2 separate regions of the Homo sapiens genome follow, and region 2 is linked to region 1. The links come from fine-mapping of genetic effects on gene expression. A gene starts in region 1. The other region holds a variant in brackets. All regions are shown on one strand. Distances are between the middles of the regions.

The links.
Region 2: its variant is fine-mapped to the expression of LINC02541 in sun-exposed skin (GTEx, PIP 0.94).

Annotation. Positions count from the first base shown.
Region 1 is chr6:113,647,410-113,651,808 of GRCh38, reverse strand. It overlaps LINC02541 (long intergenic non-protein coding RNA 2541), which reads left to right and starts at 1,734. Exons shown (of 3, transcript NR_125844.1): 1 at 1,734-1,794.
Region 2 is chr6:113,631,728-113,636,126 of GRCh38, reverse strand. All of the region lies in intron 1 of LINC02541 (long intergenic non-protein coding RNA 2541), which reads left to right. Among named protein-coding and RNA genes, the nearest start is that of LINC02541, 16 kb to the left of the region's middle. RefSeq lists enhancers at 1,157-1,206, 3,772-3,821. The variant G/A (reference allele first, on the strand shown) is at 1,924.

The DNA of each region.
Region 1 (4,399 bases):
TTTTTTTTTCGAGATGGATTCTCGCTCTGTCCCCCAGGCTGGAGTTCAGTGGTGTGATCTTGGCTCACGGCAACCTCCGCCTCCTGGGTTCAGGTGATTCTCCTGCCTCAGCCTCCCAAGTAGCTGGGATTACAGGCATGTGCCACCACACCAGGCTAATTTCTGAATTTTTAGTAGAGACAGGGTTTCGCAATGTTGGCCAGGCTGGTCTCGAATCCCTGACCTCAGGTGATCTGCCAGCTTGGCCTCCCAAAGTGCTAGGATTACAGGCATGAGCCACCACACCCGGCCAAAATACCAAATTAAAATTTTAAAAACAAGGTAACAATGGAAGTGTTAGTCCATTTCAGGGGCTGATGCGCAAGTTAATTCTTGCCCTCTCCTCTTCTCTGTGGCTCTCCTCAGCTGGCTAGTGGCGGAGGCAGCTGTGTTATTTATATTCTGTGGCTGTCAGAGGCCTGCTCCGTGCTCCTCAACCCATGTGGTACCCCGATGACTTGGCCACAGTCCAGTTGTCACAGGATTCCACAGCAGCCTGATCCTTCTTGCACCAGTGGCAGGCCAGCCTGGGCTCCTTTGCCCCTCCACTTTGCCTGTGTGTACCTCAGATGTGCAGAAGCAGAACCTATTTTTCTATCTTGTATTTTAAGCTCTAACTCTAAACTACTACACAGCTCAAGACTAAGTAGGGCATTGTTAAATTCTGGATAGTGGTCTACAGATTTTGAGTGGCATTTAAAAAATACACTTTTAGCCCTAAATCTTGAAGTATCTCTGTCAGTCTGGGTCCTCTAAAAAGGACCCAGTCAAAATGGGATTAGATGAGCAAGAGATTTATTAGGAAAAACGGGCAGGGAGCATGAGGTGTCGGGGATGGCCTTCAGCCCCTGATGCGGGTCTGAGAAAGGAGAGCAAGAAGGAAGGACGGAGTTGGGAGGAGCCTCAGACCACAGTGCAGCTCTAAGAATGTCTCTGCCAGGCCAGTGAGGATCCCCCGGCTCCAAGACCTGAAGCTTCTCATTAGAGGAGTTCTGTGTCAGGCAGAGGTGGCCTGGTCCTATTATCCCCACTGCACTATGCCATTATCTGGGAGCAGCCCGTGGAAAGTAGCATCTGGTTTGAACGCTGCAACCAGCTTAAAGGTGGGGCATCAGAAGGCTGTTAGTCAGCTCTCTTCTCTGCTGCGGGTCCTCTGGAAGGAAGATTTGAATGGGGCACCTCCATGGTCACCACAGTACCCACAGGTGTACCCTTATATCCTAGGACCCTTGGCCTCACTCCGTCTGTTCTACTCCCCTCTCTAGACCAACTCATGGCAACGTGTAAAAGGAGGTGACTCATTCCCTTCCTAGGTTCTCAGTCCCCACAGAGAAAGTTTGGATAGGGAAGTTACACCTCTGGAGGCTCACCTTTGTTTGCCGCTATTTCCTAGCCAATAAAACCATTGCTTATTAAATCCTAATTCCACAGACATTTCAGTGCTGAAATTCCCTGCACTGAGTTAAATACAGAGGACGCAAGATAAATAAGAAACGTAAATGGGCTCATATCCTATAGAGGGTTATGTACACTTTAGCAGAAATTTTAATAATTTGATAAGAAGAGAAATAGACTGGATCAGAAGAGGACTCTCCTGACCAGCCTGGGAAAAGTCTGAGCAGAGTCTGCAGGGGCAAATACAACTTACTCAGACAAAAAAGGCTGTCAGCAGCAAGTCTAGGCAGAAGCCAGGAGGAGTTAGGAACAGACTATAAGAAATGGTTGGTCTGGAGGAAAAAGGGTAAAACTTATGAGGTAAGCAGTATACAAATTTATGCTTGCAAATTTCTTTTTTCTTTTTCCTTCCTATTCAAAGGTCAATGCTTCGAAACTTGTACTTAGTTTTGTCAATAGTGTCTCATGTGCATTTTCTGAGTGTGAAGAGGATTTGGGTAGGCAAGACTAGAGAACAGCAGGAAGTCATTGCCTATTAAATTTTTATTTCCAGCCATTCACTGATGTATTGGTAAGAGGACAGGAGTCCTGGGGAAAGACTGCCTCATTTACACTCCAAAGACTTGGGTTCTGATCTCCATGTCGTGGCTTATCATAGTGTAAGCCAGTTATGTACCTCTAGAAATGGAAGTTTCTGCTGTTTATAAACTGGAAATAATGATACATGTCCTGACTCCTATTGGGTTGTTGCAAAGGAATCAATTGAAATAAGACAAGACTTTCTGAAGGCACTTTGCCAACTTTCAGAACTGTAAAGATTAAGGGACTGCTACTATGTGCTGCTCAGGAAATAACAGGCACCTGGGAAAACCCACGAAGTAAGGTTTTGTAAGAAGTTGCTCTGCTCCCTGGGAGAAAACGCGGAGCTCAACACTGCCAAGAGGAACAAGTCTGGGAAATTACGACATGAGGTAAAGCAAATAGGGCTTTTCGTTTTGTTTTTGGATACCACAATTTCTTACATGTCGTTCTTATTGTTTACCCTTCCTCACCATTGGTGGTTTTGAAATGAAAGGAAATTGGGTTAGAGAGTATTAATAAAGCAAGGGAGATGGCTAAAATTTACTTGATGTAAAAATAAACCGAACCACTTTAGTGTGGGGAGAATCAAATACTACACATTCATTATGTGGAAAACAAATTCATCTTTGTGGTGAATCAGAAAACTTTTCTACTTTCATGGAACACTATCGGCTCCCCATCCTCTCACACTCCCTGGGAGAAATAGTAGTACATGATCAGATAAATATAACTTGCCCTAATGCTTCTCTGCTGAAAGATTTTAAAAAATCCCTCTCTTATTAGCTTTACTTTGTTGATGGTTTGCTGGACTCGCTATGAGAAGACCACTGAGAATATTATCAATCTACTCAATACTGATGAGAACCAGAGGCCACAGGCATTCTTATCAACATGTGTGTAAGGTCATGGAAAGTCTCCATGTCAACAGTCCTGCTAAAGTGGCCACTCCTGGAGTAGCAGTAATCTCCTAAATTGTCTATTCTCTAAGCATTTTTTAATAGAGAAATCAGCAGGAATATTTATATGAGTTCACCCAACTGGTTGATGCATACAAGGAAATTGCTGATAGCAATGTTAATTACTTTTTCTTGAATACTCATTCACAGGACAGGTTGATCTTTGCCATTTTACACAAACAAAAAATGAAATGACATCTTTTAGCCTATCATATAGGCTGTAAAAGATATTTTGGAAAATAATTTTCAAAAAAAGTGGGTGGACGACACTAGGGATTGACTCACTTAATATAAACAACAACCACTTCTGACTTGTCTTATTGAATTTTAGAGTATGGAAAGCTAACAATGTAATTCTCCCAAAGCTCTTGCAGTTTGAATTTGAGGAGTAAACTGGGCTCCATCATGCAAAGGCAAATATTAATTTTCTATTGCTGCACGCTCAGATTAAGCAACTTAAAATAACATCATTGTCTGGCTCACAGTTTCTGCAAATCAGGAGTATGGGCATGGATTAGCCGATCCTCTGCTCAAGCTCTCACAAGGCTTAAATCAAGATATTGGCCAGGGATGGGCCAGGCGCGGTGGCTCATGCCTGTAATCCCAGCACTTTGGGAGGCCAAGGCAGGCGGATCATGAGGTCAGGAGGTTGAGACCAGCCTGGCCAACATGGCTTAAACCCGTCTCTACTAAAAATACAAAAAGTTAGCTGGGTGTGGTGGAGGGCACCTGTAATCCCAGCTACTTGGGAGGCTGAGGCAGGAGAATTGCTTGAACCCAGGAGGCGGAGGTTGCAGTGAGCTGACATCACACCATTGCACTCCAGCCCAGGCAACAGTGTGAGACTCCATCTCAAAAAAAAAAAAAAAAAAAAAAAAAAAAAAAAGTTGGCCAGGGCTACAATCTTATCAGTTATCATTTTCAGGCTTTTTGGTTGTTGGCAGAATTCCGTTTCTGTGGTTGTAGGACTGAAGTCTTTGCTTTCTTGCTGGCTATCAATGAGGGATCATTCACAGCTCCTAGAGGCTTCTTGCCATTTTCTGCTACGTGGCCCTCTCCACAACATGGCAGTTTTCTCCTTCAAAGCCAACAGGAAAGTGACTTTGGCTTTGAATCTCTATTTTGTTTTAACTGCTCACCTGATTAAGTCAGGCTCACCCCAACATAATCTCACTCTTGATTAATTCACAGCCAACTAACTGGACACCTTAATTATATTTTCAAAACCCTTTTTTGCCATATAATAGAATGTAATTATGGGAGTGACATCCCATTGTATTCACATGTCCTGCTCACATTCAAGGAGAGAGTACTGTAGAGGGTGTGTACGTCAGGAAGCAGGAATCTTGGGGAGCATCTCAGAATTCTGCCTACCACAATGTGCTGCTTGGGGCAGAAGTAAGCAAGGTTAGGTAGCATACACACAC
Region 2 (4,399 bases), 16 kb after region 1:
GTTATTTGGAAACTCAGTCACTGTTACATGTTAATTATTATTATAGTTAGTTATCAGTTATTGAACTATCACTATTTTACCATGATTACACAAAGTCATGGAAAATAATTACATCCAGGAAGATCATAAAATGCCTTGACTTTATATACTGTGGTTTTATCAAATATATATTTAGTCTTCCAAAATATACAAATGTTTGGGCTTTGCAGAAAAAGATGCTTATTTTTCTTTTTCCATTCAGATGTTTTGACATCATGTAGACTCTAATGTTTATGTTTTGTTGTCAAGGTGCAATTAGAACCTTCCAAATTACCATCTAAGGTGTTCAAAGTTTTTTATGCTCACATTAGGTTTGACATTACACATTTATTAGTCACTTCAGTGCTGTTATGATTTTTGTATCATACAAAATTTGATGCCAAAGCCTTTATAGCAGATGTGTTCAACAGGAAAAAACTTTACAAGAAATTTTCATCTATGTTAGTCTCCCATAAATGTACTTCTTCTCGGTACACTTAATCTCTGTCTCCTTCAGCCTCTACCATCAAAATACCTCTGGCAAGGTCATCTCTCCTGCCCTGGAGACATTGTGCTACCCTGCTGATTCTGTAAGGAATTTGGTATTACAGTGTCTGGCCCTGTCCTCAGGCTCTCTGGTTACCTCTTCTCTCCAACTTTGGACCTGTCTTAGCATTCCTTAAATCCATCCAGGTATGGTTGGCTCTTCCTTGGTCCCAGCTGACTCAGTCCCAAGATCCTTCCCCAACATTGCCTCTGGCCTCAGAACCAGCATCTTTGCTCTTGCTTTTTTCACTTCCAACCAGGCATTCTTCTTGCATCAGTCTTTGTTTCCAAGAATTTCTCATTTAGTGTTCATTCTCATGTTCTATGGGAAATACACCTGTATCTTCCAAACTTGTTAACTCCATTTGGTTCTCTCCAATTTTGTAAAGACCCATTTTGTCTGAGAAAACCCTACAGCCTCCCTTGTCCCTTAGATATGATTCATCAATGGAATCTCCCTGCTTTTCCTTGTTTAAGTAAGTGCTAGAGTCTAATGTAACCCCACTGGGAATTTTCATAACTTCTTGTCAACTCTGAGGTTTACAAAATTGTTGAGCTCACTTCCTCATTTCAGTGATTGTGGAACTAACCCAACATAGAACCAAAATTTAGGGTGGCTGTCATTAGAATGATTTCTAAACAAAAGTGTGAATGATGTTGCTTGCCTGTCAGATAATTTATTCACTACTTTCCCCCACCCCAGCATTACCCCCTTAGAAATCAATAGGCTTTCTAAACGGGTTTCTCCCTTTCATCCTTCCTTCTCTGCCACACCCCCATCACCAACATTTCAGATCCTCTTAGCACATTTATTAGTCCATGAGGCCTCTTCCTGAAGGTCACACTAAGTGTTAATAGTGGTTTAGTGAGTTTCCCCAACCCACTAGGAATCTTTAGAAAAGCAAACAAATACACTTTTAAATGGGAAGTGAATTGAGTGGGGAGTGTACGCTCTTCAAGTAGGGGAATTTTGTGATTTGGGGCATGTAGGTGTAGAGTGAGTGTGAGAGGTTTAGTGCTTTCCTGTACCCATTTAACACCCGGACCCAGGCCCATATTTCTTTCACTGATTGTGCCAGACGTTTTATGTGTTCTTCCAACAGTACCAGTACTGAGTAATAGTACTCAAGTTTATCTAGAAACTCAAGTTATCACCATGTCCAAGTAAAAGAACCATCATCTCTGTTCAGCCTTGTCTCTCTTCTGTGGAATCTTCCCCATGTTGCATAACTATCTTGGAGGGAGACATGTTCTCTCCCATTTATATAACCTTGTTCTCTTCTAGAGAAACAGCTCTGTGTTAAAGACACTTGAGGGAAAATGGCATTACTGATGAGATGATATTTAGTTGTCCCTTCA[G/A]AGCCAAAGGGCAGTGATTCAAAAACATTTAGGGAAATAGAAGTAACTCTTTGTAAGCTAACCAAACAGTGACCTGAACTCTTTTACCTTGTGATTTCTTATGAGTGCTTAGTTTAGTCGCCTGAAGATCAATCTTGAAATTAACAGGCTATTTTGGATTATAACAAGATTATTTAGAGACTCAAACATTCCAGAGTTCCTTTAGTAGATGACTTCTATCATGACAAGCAAGCTAAAAGGTCAGTGGTCCCAAAGTGGGGTGCACATGATCTATTGAGGTACAGAAAAAGAGAATAATAAAAATATATAAATGTATCATTATTAATAAATATAATCTTTAAAAAGATGAATTTTTATGAATGATTTATATTATTCACAATAAATTAATAATGATTATGTCATTCATAAATAAAAACATAGATATATGGTAGTACATGCTTAAATTTTATTTAAACTAGTAAGAAGGTGGGATCAAATACAGTGAAAGTCTAATGGTTAGGTAACACTTTGGCTGTAATACCCTCTTCCCTCTAATCAATGCAGTATAATAAAGACAGGTTCTAATATCTCCTCCTGAAACTGGGAGGAATTTTAAACATTCTCCCTTCTACATCATCAGAACAATATAGTTTTACTTTCACTACCTTTAAAAACATTAAGGAAAGTAGAGAACAATATTCAGATTAGTTATAAGATCAATTTTCCTATCTCCTTCTATAAGTTTCTAGGATTTTGTATATTTGGTGTGTAACATACTAACTATGTTGTATTTTTCTGTGCTTTTAGTCACAAAAAGATCCTTGCTTAAAACAAACATTTTCTAAAGACATCAAAGGCCATGTAGAAAAACATAATATAAAAAGTATTTGCAAGCTGGGTGTGGTAGCTCCCATGTCTGTAATCCTAGCACTTTGGGAGGCAGAGGTGGGAGGATCACTGCTCCTCACCCACCTACAGGTGGCTCCCATGCTTGTAATCCCAACACTTTGGGAGGCAGAGGTGGGAGGATCGCTTGAGCCCAGGAGTTTGAGACCAGCCTGAGTAACATAGTGAGACCCTGACTCAAAAATTAGCTGGGCATGGCGGCTCATGCCTGTAGTGCTAGCTATTTGGTCTTGAACTCCTGGCTTCAAGCAATCCTCCCACCTCAGACTCCCAAAGTGCTGGGATTACAGGCATGAGCCACCACACCTGCCCTATCCTACCTATTTGGGAGGCCAAGGTGGGAGGATTGCTTGAGCCTGAAAGGTCGAGGCTTCAGTGAGCCATTATTGTGCCACTGCACTCTAGCCTGCATGGCAGAGCAAGATCCTGTATCAAAAAAAAAAAAAAAAAAAAAGAATTTACAGTTGTGTGCCATAGCTTATTAGCAACAGTAGAGAAATTATAGCACAATATTTGCTGATACCACAAGGGAACACATATTTGTGGTGTCTATCTTTCATGTGTTTTTATTTTAGGAAATGAATGCTGATGTTAGGCAACTTAATCCCTTCCTTGTGACTTTTGCTCCTATTTCCAAGCTGGGTATCTCTTACACAGGCATTAACAAGTAGGTTGACTGTCGGGACAAGCCCAGGGATGGCATTGTTTCTATTTGCTGATAAATGACTCTGGGGCTGTGAAGACTCAGACCCAAGGAGTGACTCAGAAAGTCAGGGGCCCATGTCATTCTGCTCTGGGTTCAGACGTGCACTGCAGCAGCACCGGGACTTGACAGCCCTACGGCTCGATCAGCTTTCTGTTTTCATTGCCTTACGATGCCATGAGTGGAACTATTGTCAAATCAGAGTTCACTCCCCAGCTTTTCAGTCTTTCCCCTAATTCTTGCTCTATCAGAGGTCGAGGACAACAGTATAATGATTCATAGGTTCTACTTCCTGGCAAGTAATCATTTTCCCACGGTGAGTAATGATTTATGCTGAGAGGGGTAAAGAATTGTGATTTGCTTTTTTCTGTGTGGCCTTTCTGCTGACAGAGGGTTGGCTAGGAATACTTTTTTTTTCCATTTGTAAGGCCATCTAGAAAATGTTTTAAAGCATTTTAATTTTTTAAACATAGGCTCTTTAAATATATATATTATTCATAGAGAACTGGAATAATCCCCTCATATACTTTGTTAAAAAACAAAGACAATTTTGAAATTTCCTTTTTTATGTTGGCATGTGAGGACTCGGTGTGCCTCATAGAAGTCAAGAGCTGTAGAGGCCCACTACAACCCCACTTTTTAGATGGGAACACTGAGACCTGGAGAAGTTACTTGAGTTGTCCATTTCCACAGAACTGGCTAGTGACAGAGACAGATTGAAGCTTAAATTAGCTCATCATAGGCTATGATTTTATCTAACTTTAGGCTTACTTGTACCATGTCATAAGGGGAAATCTAGGTTTAAAGAAGTCCATGACTTTCACAGTGAACCACATGAATTAATGACAGAAGGGCCAAGGCAGAAGCATAGTAATTGGTATCGGATGG